2 separate regions of the Homo sapiens genome follow, and region 1 is linked to region 2. The links come from fine-mapping of genetic effects on gene expression. A gene starts in region 2. The other region holds a variant in brackets. All regions are shown on one strand. Distances are from middle to middle.

What was found. PIP is the estimated chance that this variant, and not a neighbour inherited with it, causes the effect.
Region 1: its variant is fine-mapped to the expression of NATD1 in whole blood (TOPMed, PIP above 0.99).

What each region holds. Positions count from the first base shown.
Region 1 is chr17:21,210,049-21,220,780 of GRCh38, forward strand. TMEM11 (transmembrane protein 11) reads right to left here and starts at 4,113. Exons shown (of 2, transcript NM_003876.3): 1 at 4,043-4,113. The coding sequence starts at 4,104. TMEM11-DT (TMEM11 divergent transcript) reads left to right here and starts at 4,277. Exons shown (of 2, transcript NR_184102.1): 1 at 4,277-4,402; 2 at 10,317-10,685. RefSeq lists enhancers at 4,015-4,114, 4,885-5,094 and silencers at 4,195-4,334, 4,455-4,724. The variant G/C (reference allele first, on the strand shown) is at 5,645.
Region 2 is chr17:21,248,193-21,258,924 of GRCh38, forward strand. NATD1 (N-acetyltransferase domain containing 1) reads right to left here and starts at 5,218. Exons shown (of 3, transcript NM_152914.3): 1 at 4,967-5,218. The coding sequence starts at 5,072. RefSeq lists an enhancer at 848-1,349 and silencers at 4,840-4,959, 5,110-5,219.

The DNA.
Region 1 (10,732 bases), 38 kb before region 2:
TCGCTCATTGAAGAACAGGTGCACACCGACAAGCCGGGGCAGAGGAGCCACCTCCCCACCTCCGTGGACCCAGGCGCAGCCCTCCCCTCTTCAGAAAGGGGAGCCTTCCCTGGAACATGACCTAAAGGACTGAACCACTGAGACACAAATTAATGCACTTGGAATCCAGGCTGCTTGAGTGAACCAAGGAAAACAGAAATTCTTGAAAACTTGAAGGCACATCAATACTGAAGAGGATGAACCCCATCCTTACCTACGAATCCAACTTCTGCGGCCAGAACATGTGGCTTTGCCTTTGTTAAAGAGCTGAGCAGAATCCCACAACCAGTGGCTAAACCCCCACACACTTGGGTGCAGATCCCGTATCTGCTCATCTCATCCCAGCCAGAAGGAAACAAAAACTCCCGCCACACACAAAAGCAAGCATGGAGTCTTTCAAGAGAGATTAAATACTCCCAAAGCCTGAGAGTCTAAAAGGGAAGGATCAGATCAGAAAGGGAAGCTGTCACCCCGGGACCATGACCCAACCTGCCCCCGGGGCCTGTGCTCCATCTGCTCACTGGATGAACGTGTAAGGGCCACCTGGGACCAGGCACACCTGAGTTCACAAAGAAGAGGACAGGTCCTGGGGAATAAAGCATGGCAAGGAAAGCCATGAAAGTCAGCCCAGGGAACTGGCTGCCTATAAAACGCTGGAGCAGATGGCCGCGCAAGCCAGGGGAGGGGCAGGCCACAACAAATAACTTCGCGCTAAACCTGAACTTTTAGCCCCGTGCATCTGGCCCTCTGCACACCCCAGGTTGCCTCATATCATGCTCAGAAGCAGATCAAGTACATCTTCACGTGATTATAAAAACAGGAACTCAAGAGCACACAGCTATACTCACATTCCAACAATCACGGAGGGCTCTGGGAGGTTCAGGGGCCCTGAGACAGTGAAGCCGAGCAGCCCAAGTAAGACAGGCAGGGCTGTCTGTGAGCTGGTCCGGGCTGGCACACGGTGGCAGAACACAGATACCTGCACTGTGCTTTCCTAGATGGGCAAGTGTGTCTCAAAGACGCCGACAGGACAAGTGGCAATCTGTTTGATGTGCTCGTTGCCAGTGTGCTGAATTTTGGACAAGAATTCAGGTTACAGCTCAGAGTCTGATGTTCTTCATTACAAACACTGTTGGTTCCCTAGATTTAATGGAGTGGAGAGAAAAATCAACATGCAAGCACTACCATTTTGCTATTTCCACCCCTCCTATCTTAGTCGAAACCAGCACTGTCCATATCATAACTTTCTGCAGTGATGGAAATGTCCTCCACCTATGCTGTCCAATATGGTAGCCACAGGCCGGAAGTGGCTATTGAGCACTTGAAATGTGGCTAGTGAGACTGAGGAGCTGAATTCTTCATTTTACTTAATTTTAATGAATTTAAATGTAATTGCCACATGTAGCTGGTGACTACTGAACTGCTGTGTTAATTCAGCACTAATTCTAGAGCTGTGGTTCTAGACTCAACAAGGTAAAGCAAGAACCCACACGCTACACGTGCTAAACTGGACCATCCAACACACAGCGCCGGCAGTAATACTGCAGGCAGTCTGGCACTGGGTGGGACCTTTAAGTACAATGCATGCTTCAGAGTTGGTAGCCGCTGGCAAATCTGGCAAGTGTGCCCAAAGTGTCACTCTGTTCTAGCCCCTTCCCCAAACCAGATAATGTTTCCCTCAGCTTCAGCAAAAGCAGATGCTAACCAGGTGTGAGCAGCAACGGGAGAGAGCACTCGTATAACATGGAGCTGAGATTTGAGTCAGCACGAATGTGACATGGAACAAAGTCATTTTAGAGAGCCATAAACAGCCTACTTCAGTCATAAGAGCCAATAATACACTCAGATCTCATAATCTAGAGTGCTGGGCCATCAGCTAATCCGCCCTGCCCCACCTGAACAGTCATCACCAACTGAGCAGGAATGGAGGGATGCCCAGAAGTCAGCTCGCTAGCCCCACAGCGGGTTATGTTTCCATCCCCTGCTCAGCATGGGAAGAGCTTAGGGAAGCTGGGCTCGGGGAAATGACTCTTCCAACAGAACCTGGCTAGGGGTTTACAGCAAGAGCAAACAGACAGGTAGTCTCCACCCATACCACGTTATCTAGGAGAGTAGATGGTGACATCCAAACTACAAAACCAAATGCCACATTCCTGCTGACACACAACATCTGCGTGTGTGAGTAGAGCCTTCAGTTCCAGGCCAAAGGTGCAACCTGAACACCTACAGAGACCAAGCAGGCAAATGCATTGAGTCAAGCTGACAGGTGATTTGAGTCAAGCTGTCAGGTGATTTGAGTCAAGCTGTCAGGTGAGGAACCAAGAACTGGAACCAAGCACTTGTCCCGACCAAAAAGAGTCAGCCACTACCCAGCTTTTCAGGGAGCGTTTTATATGAAATCTGCTGGCAACTAATTTAAATTCTCTTAAAAACTGTTGAGGTTCAACAGTCAAGGACTGGATCCAGCCTATGCACTGCTAATTTGCAGATCCATTTTGAATAAACAGTTGTCTCAAGCCAAAACAAAAACAATTCTCAGCATCTATTTTCTTAGATCAATAAAAGCTTAACCTGTGCTGGCAAGGCTCCTGTTCCCTGCCTGAGGCATCCCTATTCGGCTCTTTTCAGATGCTTTTAGTCCAACAAGAGGGCGTATGTTTCTAATACTTTGTTTTCTAAACAGGTTATTTCGTATTACTGTTTGCATTGAATATCTTGAAAATGTTTGCTAGTTTTTAAGAGCATCTGAAAACCATTGAGGTAACTTATTTAAATGGTCCAATCTAATACCAGGCGGGAGTTAGAAAAACAAAAGTGTGTTTACCACTGCTTTTCCAAGGAAGAGGAAATGCAGAATGGGCAACGCTGGATAACTGGGCTAAAGAATAAAGTGCAAGCAAGCTAAAGGATTCTATCACAACTGCCAAACAGGAAGAATCTTCCCAGCTGGGAAAGCCATCTGCAAGCAATAGCAATGAACACGGGATGGAATCAGTCACAGAAAAGGAATAATGCAGAGTAGTTGAGAGGAAGATAACTTTTCTGTTAGACAATCCTCACCAAAAAGACGGGGAGGGGGAGAACCAGCAAAACAAAAACTTTTCCTTTTTTGCTGACCGCTGCTATAACAATCAAGCTTTAGCGGACAGTTAATCCAGGTGGCTCCACCAATACATCTTCTCCCAAATTTCTAGTGGCTGAACAGCTTCTAGTGGTTTCCACTAGCTGAAACTGCTTCCCAGATGCAAAAACTGCAACTTGAACATGAAACACGGAAACTACTCCAATCTCATCTTCTAGAAATCAGTTATTCAAATGGAGGTCCCTGTTGGAAGAAACACGCTCCTAGCTCCCTGCCCACACACCATTCATTAGGAAAGGTCACTTTAAAGGACTTCTACGGCAGGAGCGCTTGCACAGAACCATCCAAAAGTCTTCAGAATCTTCCCTCGAGGAAGTGGCCGGCTCTGGGCTCGGAAGAGACACATCTGGCGGGAGCTAAAGCTCCCTAGTAAACGTGCAGATCAAACTACCCCTGCCGCGGCCGGCCTGCTCTGTGAAGGCTTCCCCTTCTTTCTCTCTCCGGGGGCCCTGCCTTCCTCTACACGTCTGGGGCCGCGGCCGAGATGGCCACGCGCGTGCCCAGGCGGGAAGGGTGCTTCAGCAGCCGATCGGCCCGCGGGCAGCTAGGCGGGTCCCTGAGGCCTGCGCTGGGCGCCAGTTCCTTTCAGCACGGCCCGGCCTCGGGCCCCGCCCCGCATGGCCGCTGCCTACCTTACTCAGCCCGGCTAACGCCCCTTCCCCTAAGCTCTCCGCCGAGGCCTTCGACCTCGCTCCCACCCGGATCCCGGATCCTCCGGAACTGGAACCCAGTATGCCCGGCGAGGGTAGGGGGAGCGCGGGGAAACCAGGGAAGGAAGGCTGCTGCAGCCCTCGGAGGCCGCGCTGGGCTCTCCGGCCGCTGAGCCGCCTGCACTGGGGGCAACAAGCCCTTGGATCTCACCTCTCTCGGGCGCTGCCGCCACTGCTGCCCGGGCCAAGACGCCTCCTTCCCCAAGCGGCCATCTTGGAGACACTCTGCTTGCCAACGTCTCGCGCCAAGGCGGCATCGGGAGAGCAGGCGGGCCGACGGGAAGTGTAGTCCGGCCTGCGGTCCGGGGCCGCTCGGCAGGCGGAAGCCAGACCCGGCGGAACTACCGTGCCCACAAGGCAGCGCGCCGGAAGCCCCGCCCCCGGGGTCGCCGGGGCCCGTAGTCCTTCTGCGAGGGCGCGAGGACTCCAGGAGCCGTCCTGGTTCGAGCATTTCTGAAGAAACTGAGTTCCCGGCGTTCGCAGCCTGGGAGTCACAGGCGCCCACCCACCGGTAGGTCCTTGAGTTTCGAGAGCCAGTAGCTGAAGGAGAGAGGAGAGGCAAGTGCCTACAACTCCCAGAGCACTGCGCGGAGGCGCCCGGCCGCGCTGTCCTGGCCGCCAGGCTGCCTCTCCCGCTGGGGGCCGCCGCGCTGTCTGCGGGCTACTAGCGCCGGGCCCCTCCGCGTCGCCACGCCTGCCCTTCACAGCCTTGGCCCATAAGGTCACCGAGGGGCGGGAGGCGCCGCCCGGGCCCTCCTTGGAGGCGGGCGCTGCTCCCGCACCATCCTCCCCCAGTTCTCTTAGACTCCGGGGTACTTTGGAGGCCGAGACAGACACGCTGTCCCTGCTGCCACGGAGGTCCCTGCTTGCAGGTGCAGGCTGTTAGAGGAGAGGGTCTGAAAACAAGAAAGGGGAATAGCTGTATGATAACTGCTTGAAGGCGAGAGGGCCCAGCGACAGCTCTGTTTTAGACAGGGCCTCCAGGCCTCTTAGACTCAGTCCCTGCCACGCACCCACTCCTGCCCTGGCCGCTGCGACGGCATAATCTCGGGATCTTTGAAGGCAGATGCGGGGCTAAACCATCCCACCTGACGGGAACCCTGCCACAGGACCCGACATATCCCTGTCTGGACACTGCTGTAACGAGTCAAAGTCAGGAAGGACTAACTGGAGCCCAGAGATTCCCAGGTGCTGCTGCCTCAGACCTGTGGACTCTTTGGAGGATCTCTTACAGTTTGTGAACTTCTCAGTTCCTCTACTGCTCCCACAGACAACGTTGCTAAACATATTAATTGGTCCCATAAATACTTGAGCAAAACAAATGCGAAAATCTGTCCCGAATTCAGCCTAGAAGAAGCCCAGCCCTGCGCGTCACACTTCTGTGTAGTGGAACCCCCCTTCCCACCCCGCCGCAGGCCACAGCAGGAGGGCCAGCAGACGGAAAGGCGACCCTCTCCTTGTTGAGGATTCCTTTCGATTTCCTTCCAGCTGACATTCTACCACAGTTTTAGCTGCTTGCAATCCTCTCACCGTCCCTCATCACCTACAGTGTGTGATTCAAATTCCTTAGCACAATCAAGAAGCCCCTCCTTAGTTTGGAAGTTGCCTAGCTCTCCAAATTCAACTGCCTACCTTTCCCGTCTGGAACTTGCCAGGCTAGTAAATTCAGAGGGTTTGCAGATACGTAGATGTTCTATGCTTTACCTAAAATGCTTTTACCTCCCAGCCAACTTTTTTTTTTTTTTTTGAGACA[G/C]AGTCTTGCTCTGTCGCCCAGGCTTGAGTGCAGTGGTGCGATCTTGGCTCACTGCAACCTCCGCCTCCCAGGTTCAAGCAATTCTCCTACCTCAGCCTCCTGAGTACCTGGGATTACAGGTGGTGCCACCACACCCAGCTAATTTTTGTATTTTTAGTAGAGACGGGGTTTCACCATGTTGGTCAGGCTGGTGTCCAACTCCTGACCTCATGATCCATCCCCCTCAGCCTCCCAAAGTGCTGGGATTTACAGGCATGAGCCACGGTGCCCAGCTCTCCCAGCCAACTTTTGTCCTTCAAGACCTTGTACCTGTCTGGTCTCTAAAAAGTACCTGGCCTTCCTGTTGAGTCATACAGCCCTGCCTCCAAGTGTCAGCGTAGTTCATGCTGGAGACCTCTTAACAGTTCCATGGTATGACACTGCGGATATGGCTGTCTTTTCTTTGTATCAGTGTGGTGATTCAGAGGGTATACTAGGGATTCTAGAACGCACTTCTGGCTCAGGGGCTGCTTGTGTAACTTCTGTTTCTCAGCTGCCTGGTTTGTATCATGGGATGATAGTATCTCCCCTCAGAGGATTGCGGTATTTCATGAGGTGATACGTGTATGGAGGCCAAGTGCTGTTTTATATTTTAAGTGATCTACATCTTGATTTTCACAACAACTGTATAAAAGTGATACTGTTGGCCAGGTGCGTTAGCTCACGCCTGTAATCCCAGCACTTTGGGAGGCCAAGGCGGGTGGATCACCTGAGGTCAGGAGTTCAAGACCGGCCTGGCCAGCATGGTGACACCTCGTCTGTACTAAAAATACAAAAATTAGCCGGGCATCGTGGCACACGCCTGTAATCCCAGCTACTCGGGAGGCTGAGGCATGAGAATCATTTGAACCCGGGAGGTGGAGGTTACAGTGAGCTGAGATCGCACGACTGCACTCCAGAATGGATGACAGAGCAAGACTCTGTCTTAATAATAGTATCACTTTTTTTTTTAATCAACAATCTCATTTTGTAAATGAGGAAATCAACTTACAGACGACCTGAGTGACTTGCTCACACTGCCAGCCAGGAAAGTGCTAGGATTTGAGCCCAGACTGTCCAGTTACAGAGATTACACTCTGCCATTGTGCCTCTCCAGAAGCACTGGAGGTAGGTCTAGTGCATAGAGTAAATGTAAATGCTGAAACAACTGTGGCCCTAATGAACATCCCATTTCTCCAGCTTTTTACTCTCCCCTTAACTTCTGAATGACCGTCTGCTTCTAATCTGCCAACTTGGTCTAAGATCCTCACGGTGTTTCCTCCTGATTACTGTTAATGCACGGAGGTTGTCTGGAAGGTTCATAGGCAGCCTGATTGACTCAGTATGTATTAGCTGAGCACCTTTGGAGGGCACAGCCTGAGTGGTGGGAATTAGTTCCTGGGGGCTGTCCTGCGGTGGAGACTCCCGTGAGCCCTCTGTCCTGCTGTATGAAGGCAGCCAGTGGAAAGGCATGTCCTCGCTGGTGCTCAAAGTAATCTGCTACTTCTCTTACTACACTTTTCATTCATTCATTCTTAAATCGTTGAAGGCATACTCTGCAGGTACTCTTGGGCACAGAGATACGGTGTTTAGTAAGACAAACACTGTTCCTGGGTCTTAACGGGCTTTACATTCCAATGGGATAAACAACTTAAGTAAATATTTTCAGAGAGGAGTACCAAGAAGAAAAGGAACAGGATGATATAATGGAGTGACTTGGAGATCACAGGTGGTAAGAGGTCACTCTAAAAAGGTAACATTTGAAGGCTGGGCACAATGGCTCACACCTGTAACCCCAGCACTTTAGGAGGCTGAGGAAGGAGGACAGCTTGAGTCCAGGAGTTTGAGGCCAGCCTGGGCAACATGGGGAGACCTTGACTCTACAAAAAATTTAAACATTAACTAAGTATGGTGGCACGTGCCTGTAGTCCTAGCTACTGGAGAGGCTGAGGTGAGAGGATCTCTTGAGCCCAGGAGTTTGAGACTGCAGTGAGCTATGTTTGTATTACTACACTCCAGCCTGAGGGACAGAGTGAGACCCTGTCTCTTAAAAACGAAAACCCGACTGTATCAAAAGGTAACATTTGAGTGGGACTTGAAAGAGTGTGCATGCGAAGGACTGAAGACAGAATGTTCTGTGCAGAGCGAATTAATGCAATGGCTTTGCAGTGCAGATGGGCCTGGGGTGGTCCAATAAGGTTAGGACCAAGGTGGCTGGAGCATCATGAGACAAGCGTGGTACTTAGCTTGCCTTTGGTTAAGTCACTTTCTCTATTTGAATTTCAGTTTCTCACCTGTAAAATATGAGTAATTTTATCTGTATTAGCCAGTGTGTAATTAGAGGAAAAACCATTTAATACAGGGTATTGTTTACAAAGGTGTTGGAAGGGCATGAGAAACAAGGGGAGAACAAGGGCACCCAAAGCCTGACCCCCACAAGGCTAGAGGAGCAACAGGAAAATTCGTTTCCAGAGACTGATTCCTCAGCTGCTGAGCAGGAGCCTGGAGCCACACTTGCTGCCTGGTACTACTGACACACAACTGGAACCACCGCTGTGGCCTGGGGTGCCACCAGAAGCCAGAGATTAGAATTGCTTTCCCCATCTCATATCTTCCAAACTCCCACCAGTGCCTCCCACTGGCTGAGTCAGATGACAAGGGAGTCTGGGAAATGTAGTTGTTTGGCTTCCAGCCCTGACCATGGAGAGTATAGAAAGGCAGGTGTAGGGGAGAAAATAGATGCCATTCACACAGCGCCTATCTTGCAGGGCTGTTTTGAGGAGTAAAAACTCAGCCTATTTTTATTCCTCATAGCATGTAGTAGCATTCAGGGAAAGGCAAATCTTCCAAAACAATATCTTAGGTATAATAGTTCTACATAAAGGTTTGAATTTACCATTAAAAGCATCAAAATGAGCATTTTAAAAGTAGAATTTTAAGTCTGAATGGGCAGTATATTCACATGGTATAAAATTCAAATTACAAAACAATATACAGTGAAAAATAAGGGGGTTTTTTTGCTCATCTTCTTGTGACCTGGCTCTTTCCATCTCTGTCCACAACCCTCTGCAGGCAATAACTGGTACCTTTGTTATGGATCCTCTGCAGATATAAAGTAGACATATATTAACAAATGTTTTCTTTGGCCCAGAGGATGCATATTATGCACATTCCTCCATTTCTTGTTTGTTTTTGTTTTTTCCACTTAATTGTATCTTGGAGATCACTCTGTATCAGTATATATCTGATTTGTTTTAGCAGTACATGATAATCCATTGTTTGGATATGCCATAATTGTATCAGCCAGTCTCTGGACAGTCTTTTACTATTTCAAGGAGTGCTGCAGTAAACATGTTTGCGCCACTTCCTGGTACCCATTGCAAATAAAACTGGGATAATTTCCTGACGAGAACTTGCTGGGTCAGAGTGTAGGCACTTGTTGTTTTGATAAATATTGCCAGACTACACCCCACTCCCTCCAGCAGTACATGACACTGCCTATTTCCCCACAGCTGTGCCAGCATGGTCTGTTAGCAAGTGTTTTCTTTTTGCAAATTTAAAAGTGGTATCTCGCTAAATGCAATATGGTAGCAGAGGACATTTGTGGAAAAACAGGTGAAATCTGGGCTGGGTGTGGTGGCTCATGCCTATAATCCCAGCACTTTGGGAGGCCGAGGCAGGCGGATCACAAGGTCAGGAGTTCGAGACCAGCCTGGCCAATATAGTGAAACCCCGTCTCTACTAAAAATACCAAAAAAAGTTAGCTGGGCATGGTGGTGCAAGCCTGTAATCTCAGCTACTCGGGAAGCTGAGTCAGGAGAATCGCTTGAACCTGGGAGGCGGAGGTTGCAGTGAGCCAAGATCATGCCACTGCACTCCAGCCTGGGTGATGGAGTGAGACTCTGTCTCAAGAAAGGAAAAAAAAAACAAAAAACAGGTGAAATCTGAATGGGGTCTTGAGTTCAGTTAATAGTAACTGCCAATGTTGGTTCTTAGTTTTGACACATACCATGACTATGTGAGATGTTAATGTCAGGGGAACCAGGATGAAGGCTATACAGAACTGTACTATTTTTGCGACTTCTCTGTACATCTAAAATTATCCTTAAAAAGGTTTCTTTAAAAAATGACATCTTGTTTTCTGTAAAATTTGAATTTCTCATGAGTGAAATGGAACGTTTTGAATATGATGCTCTTTTTAAAAGGTGGCCTTAATAATTTGTATTTACTAAGGAAAAAAGTCAGAGTTTATTTACTTTAAAAAAATTCAGGCCGGGCGTGGTGGCTCATGCCTGTAATCCCAGCACTTTGGGAGGCTGAGGCGGGCGGATCACGAGGTCAGGAGATCAAGACCATCCTGGCTAACATGGTGAAACCCTGTCTCTACTAAAAATACAAAAAATGAGCCGGGCGAGGTGGCAGGCGCCTGTAGTCCCGGCTACTCTGGAGGCTGAGGCAGGAGAATGGCGTAAACCCGGGGGGTGGAGCCTGCAGTGAGCAGAGATTGCGCCACTGCACTCCAGCCTGGGGGACAGAGCGAGACTCCGTCTGAAAAAAAAAAAAAATTCATTAACAGTACATTTAAAATTTCTGTTACTGGAGATTGTATTTCTCATTCCATCCATTAATGTGCAGCTTCAATGTTTTCCCCCAGATATGCAATTTCACTTACAGGATCTTGTTCTTCAGTGACATGTCATAAGAGTTAATAATTCCACAAGCCACCCTGCACTGCTGTGATCCTAACAATATTGAAAGGTTGGTGTGTATCCTTTCCTACCTTTCCTCATTCTAAAATGTTTCCTCGTTCTAAATGCCAAGCTGGTTTTGAACAACTGACCTCAGGTGATCCACCTACCTTGGCCCCTCAAGGTGCTGGGATTATAGGCATGAGCTAACATGCCCAGCCCTAATCTGCTCTTCTTAGATGGATACTTGTCAGATTGGGTTAAGACCCACTCTCATGGCCTCATTTTAACTTAATTTTCTCTTTAATAAAAGTCCAAATGCAGTCCATTCTGAAGTACTGGGAGGTTAAGATTGTGTTATTTGAATTGAAGTGAGGGTGAG
Region 2 (10,732 bases):
TTGGAGGGCCTTCAAAGGCCACCCAGTCACAAGTGTTACACCCATGACACAGGCCACAAATGCAATACCGGTCCTCACGCTCAACTCCTTGTCCTGCCCCAAACCTGCCTGGACATCCCAGGAAAATGCCCAAGTCCCCAAAGCTTGACCAAGGTCCTTGGCTCCTCCTCACCTTTTCTCATCTGACCTGACCCTCGGCAGGACCGTGGACATGGCTTTCTAAACATGCCTGGGGTCCAGCTGCCTCTCTGGCCTCCCTGCCTTGGTGGCTGCTCCCCTGCCTGTCACCTTTCTGCCCAGGGCCTCCGGGGACCCTTCCTTCTCATTTCAGGTGAGCCCAAAGGTCACGTGCCCAGAAGCCTCCCCTGACCACCCGCAGCCCCCATGATGGGACAGCAGGACACCAGGGTAGCACTGTCAGCCACGCTTTCACTTCTGGGCACTGTGGATCCTGCTGTCTCGGCTCACAGTGACATAGGCATAGCCTCTGGGCCTGGCCCAGGCCCTTATCTGGGCAGCTCTAAGAGCTGCCTTGAGAACTCCAGACCTCAGACTAGCACAGGGGGGCAAGACTTGTCACTTGGGAGCCACAGGAGCAAGCCTAGGGCAGGGCAGGGCCCTCAGTTCCAGTCTCAACTCTGCCAGGTGATCTTATGCCAGTCCTGACACCCCTCTGCCCCAGAGACCTCACCTGTCCCTGGATGATCACTACCACCCTCCTCCCTCCTGGGCCTGAGAACCCCACCAGCATCACGTGACTGGTTTGGGAAAAGTTAAAGCTACACTGCTCGTGGGGGACCCGTCCCTGGGTCTCTGCACCCCCATGCTCTCTCTGCCCCTCCTGAACCTCGGGACCAAAGGGGGCCAGGAAATTGTCAGGGGAGGCGATCACAGAGAAAGACCAAAGCTTGCAGACAGGGGACAGGGGCAGGACCTCTGGGAGATGTGGAGTCTGCAGAAGACATTGACCTCTGCTTTCTCCACTCGGCCCACACTGACCCCGCAAGGAGAGCTGGCAGATCAAAACGCGAATATACAGATGAGGAGACTGAGGTAGACGGAGGCAGAGCCCAGGCGCCAGAGCTGTGGCACGGGACAAGGACAAGCAGACACCCTGGCCGGCTTTTCTGGCACCTCTGTAAGTAGAGCCTGGATCAGGGAGGTGCCACATGTTGGTGGTTCATTGGTAGATTAGGCAGAGGGAGCTGTGAGCCTGGAGAAGCTCAACCATACGTCCCTCCCCTCCCCAGAGGACCCTGGTCCAGCCCAGCCCAACACAGCCAGCGGCCTCATATTGGGGCTGTGATCTGAGCACCTCCCAAAGCCTGGGGCTGTGATCTTAGCTCCACTGCATCCAGGGGTGCTGAGGGAGGCCAGGGGCAGCAGCTGACTCTCTGGGGCCTCAGTCTTCCTGGCTGCAAAATGGGGGTTAGGGAGGACGCAGAAAGTTCCAGGGTTCTGCACCCCTCAAGTGTTCCTTTCCTTGCAGCAAGTGGGACACTCAGCCCTGCCTGTGAGGGAAAGGGAAGGCTAAGGAAGGGGCTGCCCAGGAGGTGGGGGTCTCTTCCAGCTGCCTCCAACCTTCAGAAACCGTCCTCAGATGGAGGCCGGGGGCTTGATTCTGGCTTAGCTGCCTACAGGCTGTGCGCCTTGGTTTCCCCATCTATAAAGTAATGACAAGCTTGCATTTCAGAACCAGGATATGGCATCAGACAAGCCTGAGCTCAAGCCTTCCCTCATCACCCACAAGCAAGTCACAGCCATGCTTCCTTCCACATCTGTCCAGGATCTAGACGTTTCTCCCACGCCTGTTTGCAGTGCCTGGACTAGTAAAGTAACCACCTCCCTGCTCTGTCCTGGTCCCCACAGTTTGCTCCCCTTAGAGCAGCAGCTAGAGGGAGCTGGGGCATCCCATCTGTCTTCTGCTCAGGACCCTCCTGGGAGCCTCAGAGTCAAAGCCGAGCCCATAGGACAACGGCTTCCAGGCCCTGCACCACCTGCTCCCCATGACCTCTTGACCCATCCTGCACACACAAGGCATCGCAGGCACTGCAGAGCCTTTGCTCTTGCTATTCCCTCCACTTGGAACACTCTTCCCTGTTGCAGCTCTGTTTCTTGCCTCCTTCAGGTCTTCACTTAAATGCCACCCTCCAGGGAGGGGCCTTCCTAGACACATGATTGTAAATAGCAGCCCTGCCCAACACAGCCTCCCCTCTGCCCCCTGCACCTCTCATGAAAGCCCTTGTTTTCCAGGATACTTTAAAACTGACTCTATTTCTTGTCCATTTCCCTCTCTAAACTGTCAGCCCCAGGAGACCCCGACACCTAAAAGAGTGCTTGGTACATGGTAGGTGCTCAACAAATACTTGCGGGGTGAATCACAGCTCTTCCACCTCTGTGGTGCAAGACTTTGGGCAAGTCATTTCACTTCCCCATGCCTCAGTCTCCCCATCTGTATATGGGAAATGCAGTTTCCCCTCTCCCTGTGGTGTGTGGCTATGAAATAAAGTGACTCCAGGTGCCCAGGGCCTCCTAGAACACTGTAAATGCTTAATAAACAAAGGTGCTCAAACGTTTTCCCTCACTCAGAACCAGAGCTCGCAGGAAGAGAATCAGCCTAGCTGTGCTATGTGGACAGCCTAGGAACACTTCTGCACCAGGAGCCTGGGGCTACCTGACCCCTCAGCCTCAGTGTTTATATCTCTCAGTGGGCACAACAGCACCAGCCTCCAGGCTTGCCTTACAGGTCGGGAATGACACCACAGCCTGTTGTCCTCCTCAGCTCAGGGAGGCCTGGGCTCAGACTCAGACGACCCCTCTCTGGTCCCAAGACACACACCCAAACCCAGTGGGGCCTGGAAGCCCAGAAGAGCCCCACCCTGTGCTGCACAGCCACTCCCTTGGGGGCCTCTGGCCTCTCTCTTCTTTCTCCCCTGGGCTTGGCTGGGGAGATGCCCAGCCACATCTGTGGTCAGCTATCTGGGCAGTGAATTCCAGAAGGGGGTAAGTTTAGAAATACGGCTGGGCATGTCCAGCCCTGACCACGGCCAGCTCTGGAGGGCTGTCCTTTGGCTGTACCCACTTGGAAGAGAAAGAAAAAGAAAAAAAAAAAAAAAAAACAAACGTATCCCCTCTTCTTTCTGTCTCTGAGTATAATGGCCCTCCCGAGCCCACAAGGGAACCAGAGGCCGCTCTGGAACCTCAGAAGAGAGGATTTGAAAGCCATGAGGCCTCTCTCCCAGAGTCGCCAGGGCCCCGAGTGTCCTGGCCAGCTGAGCCCTGCCAGCACCACAGCAGTAGCAGGACTTGCCTCTGCCTGGTGGTGTAGGGTTGGTTGGGCCAATGGTGAAGTTCTGGGTGATGCTGGGCAATCACTTCCTAAGGTCCCTAGCCTCAGTTTCCTCATCTGTAACACGGGGTGGTATGTCACAACATTGTCAGGGTATTGTGACAGTCCCATCCACGAAGCTGTAGTGGGGCCTGGCTCGACACTCGGCACATTCCAAATGGCATCGGAGATCTGGCAGAGGCCCCTCCTGGCTGAAGCCAAATGTGGGTCGCAGGAGCCCCACCGTTCAGGGAGTCAGACCAGTCAGGACGCCATCCCAGCTCTGCCCAACTCTCAGCCTGACCTCTCGCAAGCCTTTCCCTTTCCTGGCCCTCCACCTTCCCTTCTTGAAAATGGGCACAGTGGCCCCTAAGGACCGGTCCAGCTTGGACATTCCCACTGGGGCGAGGTGGGCCACAGGGAGTTCATAGCCCTTGTTTTTGTAGTTCTATTTCCTACCTGTGGGACCTCCTGAGGGGGGATGGGCTAATCAAAACTTCTCTACACTGGCAGGGCGTGGTGGCTCACTCCTGTAATCCCAGCACTTTGGGAGGCCATGGCAGGTGGATCACCTGAGGTCAGGAGTTCAAGACCAGCCTGGCCAACATGGTGAAAGCCTGTCTCTAATACAAAAATTAGCTGGGCATGGTGGTGGGTGCCTGTAATCCCACCTACTCCTGAGGCTGAGGCAGGAGAATCACTTGAACCCAGGAGGCAGAGGTTGCAGTGAGCCGAGATTGTGTCACAGGAACATTGTGTCGCCTGGGCGACAGAGTGAGACTCCATCTCAAAAAACAAAAACTTCTCTACACTAAGGGAGAACTTGCCCTTGCTTTCTGGCTTCACGAATCACGATCGGGCCACGTTTACCAGCACTTACTAATCCCCCATGAGCTGGTCTGATCCTTTACATTTGTTACAGTCTTTCATCCTTACAACTAGCCAATGGGGTGTGCACTGGTATTATTCCCATTGCAGAGAGGGAGAAACTAAGGCACACAGAAGTGAGGCAAATGGCCAGTCCCAGAGCCACTGAAGTCTTGATAGTGATAGCCATCCCCCCGCCCCTCACTCCCCCCAGGGGACCACAAGCCCCTTTCGCGGTCAGCCCCAGGTCCGCAGGCCTCCCCCGTGTAGAAAGACTAAGATTCCCAGGGGCAGCAGGAAGCCATATACCACCCGCAGAAGGGGACAGGTCACGGCTGACCAACTTTCCAGGATCTCAAACAGGAGCCTTCAGTGGGTGCCCAACAGTCGTGAACAAGTGGGCCTGAGCAGGTGCGGGTCCCCTGCGGCTGAGACAGGGGACCCGCGCTGCCCCAGCTCCTGCCTCTGCCTTTCCAGGGGCCCCTGTCCGCCCTGGCCCCTGCTCTCCCGGGAAGTCTGCCCCCGCCCAGCCCGTTCCACTTCCCGGAGCGCCGGCCGCGCCCCCACCTGGCCCCGAGCACAACCCGGCCCGCGCCCGGAGCTCCGGCCGCCCGGGACCACCCCGCGGCGCGCGCTTGCAACAGCCTTCCCGGGCGGCGGGCCGGAGCCGGGCCGCGGGCGCGCGGGGGACAGGCACCCAGCAAGGGGGCGGCCCCGGCGGGCCCCGCTCGCTCGCAGACAAAAGGTCGGGGCGGGCCGGGGCCGCCTTACCGTTGAGCCGGACAGTGAACTGGCGGCGCCGGCGGTCGTGCTCCACGCGGATGGGGCAGCCCTGCTCCAGCGCGCCCAGCGGCACGGCGGCAGCCGAGTGCGCCATCTGCGCGCGGGGCTGCGGCGCGGCGCCGGCGGGGGCCGGGGCGCGCGGGGAAAGGTCAGGCGCGCGGCGGGGCTGGAGCGCGGGCGCAGGCGGCAGGCGGTGGGGTAGTTACGGCCTGGGAGACCGCAGGCGGCGGCGCTGAAAGTGACACTCGGCGGCGGCGGCAGCAACAAAAAGGGTGGGGGGGGGGCCAGGAAATCAGCTGTGAGGTCACGTGCGGCGCGCAGCCAGTGGACGCGCGGCCTTTTTGTTTTGATACATTCCAGTCACCTCTTAAAGGGGCCGCGCCGGCCGCGTTCCTCTCGCAGCCCCAAACAAAACAACACGGGCCGCCGCCGCGCCGCGCCGGCTACTTTTCCGTCTTGCGTTTGTCCCACGTGCAACTTTGGGACCCCCGCAAGGAGCCTTCTAAAAAAGACGTAACAATCTTTTGTATGGACATTCTAATCGTCCCCAAGGCAGCCACCATTTATTAAGCACTTGCTGTGTGCACGGCCTGTGTATAGCAAAGCCCTGGCGCACAGGGCGCTCAGTAATCACTGCGCTGAGATTTATCACCAGAAGCCTGAGAAATAGGTATGCTTGACTCCATTTTACAGATGAGCAAATAGAGGCTAAGACAAGTGAAAGACATGCATAAGTTCTCACGCAGCTGAAGCCCTGGGGCTACTGGTGCTAGGAGTGCGCACCCACCCGTGTTGGCAGCCTGGGTGGCTACTGGCTACTGGGAAGGAATTGTCCTGTGAAGCCTTGTTTGGGATAGGAGTGAAATGCCACCTCTCCCAAAGAGAGGCGTAAATGCGGGAAGAGGCCTTGGGGATCCCTGGATCCACTCCATAGATGGGGAGGCTGAATCCCAGAAAGGGGCAGGGACTTGCTTGAAGACACACAGGACTGTTGGGGCTCAGACTTCTTTGAAAGGCGCCTTAATTAGGCTCCTCAAGGCTCAACCTTAGAGCCACACCCTCCCCTCTTGCTCACCTGAAGGGGCACTCCTGTTGCCCATAGCTGTGCAGTGAATCATACAGGTTACTTTTAATATTTTGCTAATTACGGTGCAAACTTGATGTTCACACCCGTGTGACCACCATCCAAATCAAAATACAGAACACTGGTGGTTCCCTAGGGCCCTCTTCCAAGCAATGCCCTACCCTTTGAGGTAACCACTGTCCCTGACTTCTAGTGTTGTTGACTAATTAGGTTTCTCTAGACCATCATGTAAACATAATCATACAATATATACTATTTTATTTTATTTTAAGACGGAGTCTCTCTCTGTCGCCCAGGCTGGAGTGCAGTGGCTTGATCTCGGCTCACTGCAGCCTCTGCCTCCTGGGTTCAAGCGATTCTCCTGCCTCAGCCTCCTGAGGAGCTAGGACTACAGGGCTACAACAACAAGCCGGGGTAATTTTGGTATTTTTAGTAGAGACAGGGTTTCGCCATGTTGGCCAGGCTGGTTTCAAACTTCCAACCTCAGGTGATCCATCCGCCTTGGCCTCCCATCGTACTGGGATTACAGGCATGAGCCACCGCACCCAGTCCAATATGTACTTTTAATGTCCAATTTCTTTTGCTCAATATTTTATCTGTGAGATTCATCCCTGTTTTTGCATCTTTTTCGCCACTGAGTAATTATTCCATTGTGTTGACAAAAAAAGCCAAACTGTAAAATATTTGAAGAGCTTATTCTGAGCCAAATATGAGTGACTATGGCCCTGGACACAGCCTCAGGAGGTCCTGAGAACATGTGCTGGAGGTGGTCGGGTTATAGCTTGGTTTTATACATTTTAGGGAGACAGAAGTTACAGGCAAAGACCTAATACCTGTAAGGTGTACATTGGTTCGGCCATCCAGAAAGTGGTGGGGGCTTACAGCTCATAGGTGTATTCAAATATTTTCTTTTTCTTTTTTTGAAACAGGGTCTCGCTGTGTCACCCAGGTTGGAGTGCAGTGTCGCCATCTTGGCTCACTGCAACCTCTGCCTACCTGGCTCAAGCCGTTCCTTTGTCAGATATATTTACCGAGAATATCCTCTGATCCTCCCATCTCAGCCTCCCAAGTAGCTAGGACCACTGGAATGGGCCACCACACCCGGCTAATATTTTTGTATTTCTTTTAGAGATGGGGTTTCACCATGTTGCCCAGGCTCAGGCGATCCATCCGTCTCAAACTCCTGACCTCATCCACCTGCCTAGACCTCCCAAAGTGCCGGGATTATAGGTGTGAGCCACCCTCACCTCGCGCCCCCACCCCACCCCCCCAATTCAAAGATTTTCTGATTGGCAAGTGGTTGAAAGAGTTAAGCTTTTCCTAAAAAGAGTTGATGTCAGAAAGAAATACTCGAGTTAAGATAAGGAGGGGTGTGTGGAAGCCAAGGTTCTTATTATGTAGATGAAGCCTCTAAGTAGCAGGCTTCAGAAAGAATAGATGGTAAATGTCTCTTTTAGGACTTTAAAAGGTGTCAGACTCTTAGTCAAATCTCTCCTTAATCAGAAAAAGACCCAGAAAGGGAGGGGGATTCTCCACACATGCAAATTTCCCCCACAAGAGATGGCATTGCAGGGCCATTCCAAAATAAGTCGAATAATATATTTTTGGGTAAAATTCGTTAATTTCCTTCGGGGCCTGTTATCTGTCATGCGATGCTATACCAGAGTCAGGTTGGAATTTGTTATCTTAGTGCTACAAAGAGTCTGTTTTGGGTCGGGCGCGGTGACTCACGCCTGTAATCCCAGTACTTTGGGAGGCCAAGGCAGGCGGATCATGAGGTCAGGAGATCGAGACCATCCTGGCTAACATGGTGAAACCCCATCTCTACTAAAAATACAAAAAAATAATTAGCCGGGCGTGGTGGCGGGCGCCTGTAGTCCCAGCTACTCCGGAGGCTGAGGCAGGAGAATGGTGCGAACCCGGGAGGCAGAGCTTGCAGTGAGCAAAAAAAAAAAAAAAAAGGAAAAAAAGAGTCTGTTTTGTCAGTCTAATTATATATATTTTATGGGTTTTTTTTTTTTTGAGACGGAGTTTCACTCTTGTTGCCCAGGCTGGAGTGCAATGGCACGATCTTGGCTCACCGTAACCTCTGCCTCCTGGGTTCAAGCGATTCTCCTGCCTCAGCCTCCCGAGTAGCTGGGATTACAGGCATGCACCACCACGCCCGGCTAATTTTGTATTACAGCGTGCTACCATCCTGGGCTAATTTTTTTCAGTTTCATAGAGTTGGGGGCCTCTCTGTGTTGCTCTGGCTGGTATCAAACTCCTGGACTCAAGTGATCCTCCTGTGTTGGTCTCTCAAAAAGTGCTGGGTTTACAGGCATGAGCCACCATACCTGGCCTTTGCTGGATCTTATAGTAGGTGTATATTTAGTTTTGTGAGAAATTGCCAGAGCTTTTTCCAAAGCGGGTGTACCATTTTACACTCCTGCTGACAATTTTGAGAGTTTCATTCGTTGTACACTCTTTTCCAAGTTAGCCATTCTGAATGTGAAGTGGCATCACATTGTAGCTCTCACTTGCGGCGGCCTGTTGAATGGAGATGTTGAGCCTCTTTTTATATGCTCCTTGGCCATTTGGATATCCTGTTGTGAACACTTTGGCCAACTGTTGTGCCACAGTTTTTGTGGCGCAAATTTAATTTTTTTAATTTTTAAATTCATTAGAGTGATTTTTGTTGTTCAGTTACCATTCCTTTGTCAGATATATTTACTGAGACTAACCTCTGCTAGCATATTTTTATTGTTATTTCAACCAGTGTGTCTTGTATTGGGAAGTTTGTAAACAAAACAAGGCTAGAGAGTGAGTCTTTACATGCAAGGAGACAGAAAGTGATTCTGGGGTCAGGTAAGTCCTTGACCTCAGCTGAGTCATGTTGGCTGCAGTCCTGAGCAAGCAAGATGTAACCTCATGAGTGTCTCAGGTGACTTCTCCATCTCCAGAGCACTTAAGTGGTTTAGGGAGGCCAGAACGTGTTCCTGAAATCTCTTTTTTTTTTTTTTGAGACAGAGTCTTGCTCTGTCACCCAGGCTGGCGTGCAGTGGCGCAATCTCGGCTCACTGCAAGCTCCGCCTCCCGGGTTCACGCCATTCTCCTGCCTCAGCCTCCCAAGTAGCTGGGACTACAGGCGCCCGCCACCGCGCCTGGCTAATTTTTTTTGTATTTTTAGTAGAGACGGGGTTTCACCATGTTAGCCAGGATGGTCTCGATCTCCTGACCTTGTGATCCACCCGCCTTGGCCTCCCAAAGTGCTTACACGCTTGAGCCACCGCGCCTCCTGAAATTTCTTGAACCGGCCATACTCGTTCCCTCCTCTGGGCCTATGCATGTGCTGTTGTCCAAACATCACCTCCTCTGGGAAGCCCTCATCTCTGCAGTCACATTTATTTAGTGTCTGTTCCCCAGCTATCCTAGATCCAGGACAGATTCCTCTCTCATCAGTCCCTGGCAGAGCCCAGCACACACCAGGGCCAGTTAAAAGCCAGGGTCTTCCTTGTCTCTGGCTCCCTTTCTTCTCCCCTGCTTTTGAATATACTTAGCTTACTGGCATCTTTTCACCTTGCAGAAATCCCTTCTGGAACAAGGATAAACAAAAGAACCAAGTGAGCATTTACTGTCTGCTGAGTCAGTGGATGTGCTCTGCCTCCCTACCCTGGGGAAGCAGTATGTGCCGAAACCCGGCCATGTGGAGACCAGGTTGTAGACGTAGGATATCATTTATTCAGTCAGTCATCAGTTCATTTAGCAAATATTGGATGCTTACTGCATACCAGGTACTGTCATAAGGAGACCCAACAGTGAACAAAACAAAAAACTCCCTGCCCTTTAGGAGCTGATGCTCTAGTTGGGGGAGAGACAATAAGCAAAGAAGAAAATAATGATCTGGCCGTTCACATGGCCCAGTGGGAGATTCAGCAGGGGGCAGGGGCGTGCTCCTGGAGGAGGTCATGGTTTCAGATTGGGTGGCCAGGACAGACATCAGCTGATGTGGAGTCTTTTATGAAAGGCTTGAAGGAGGGGTCGGGGTGGTGGCTCACGCCTGTAATCCCAGCACTTTGGGAGGCCCAGGTGGGCAGATCACCTGAGGTTAGGAGTTTGAGACCAGCCTGACCAACATGGAGAAACCCCATCTCTACTAAAAATACAAACATTAGCTGGGTGTGGTGGCACATGCCTGTAATCCCAGCTACTCGGGAGGCTGAGGCAGGAGAATCGCTTGAACCCAGGAGGCGGAGGCTGCAGTGAGCCAAGATTGTGCCACTGCACTCCAACCTGGGTGACAGAATGAGACTCGATGTCAAAAAAAAAAAAAAGACTTAAAGGAAGTGAGGGAGTGAATCAGGTGGTATAGGGGGAAGGGCAGAAAGAGTGGCTGTGCAGAGGCCTTGGGGTGCGTTTCCAGAACACAGGGAAGCCAGCGTGGCTAGGACAGAGAGACCCTGGAGGACAGGGGATGAGACCAGAGGTCCTGCAGGCGGATTGAGGGGACTTTGGCTTGGACTCTGATCTGGGAGGGATTGGGGCATGATCTTGTCAGAGGCGTTTGAACCAGAGTGACTCCATCTTGTATAGGGGCTGGGTAAAATAAGGCTGAGACTTGCTGGGCTGCATTCTTAGTAAATTAGGCATTTTAAGTCACAGGATGAGAAAGGAGGTCAGCACAAGATACA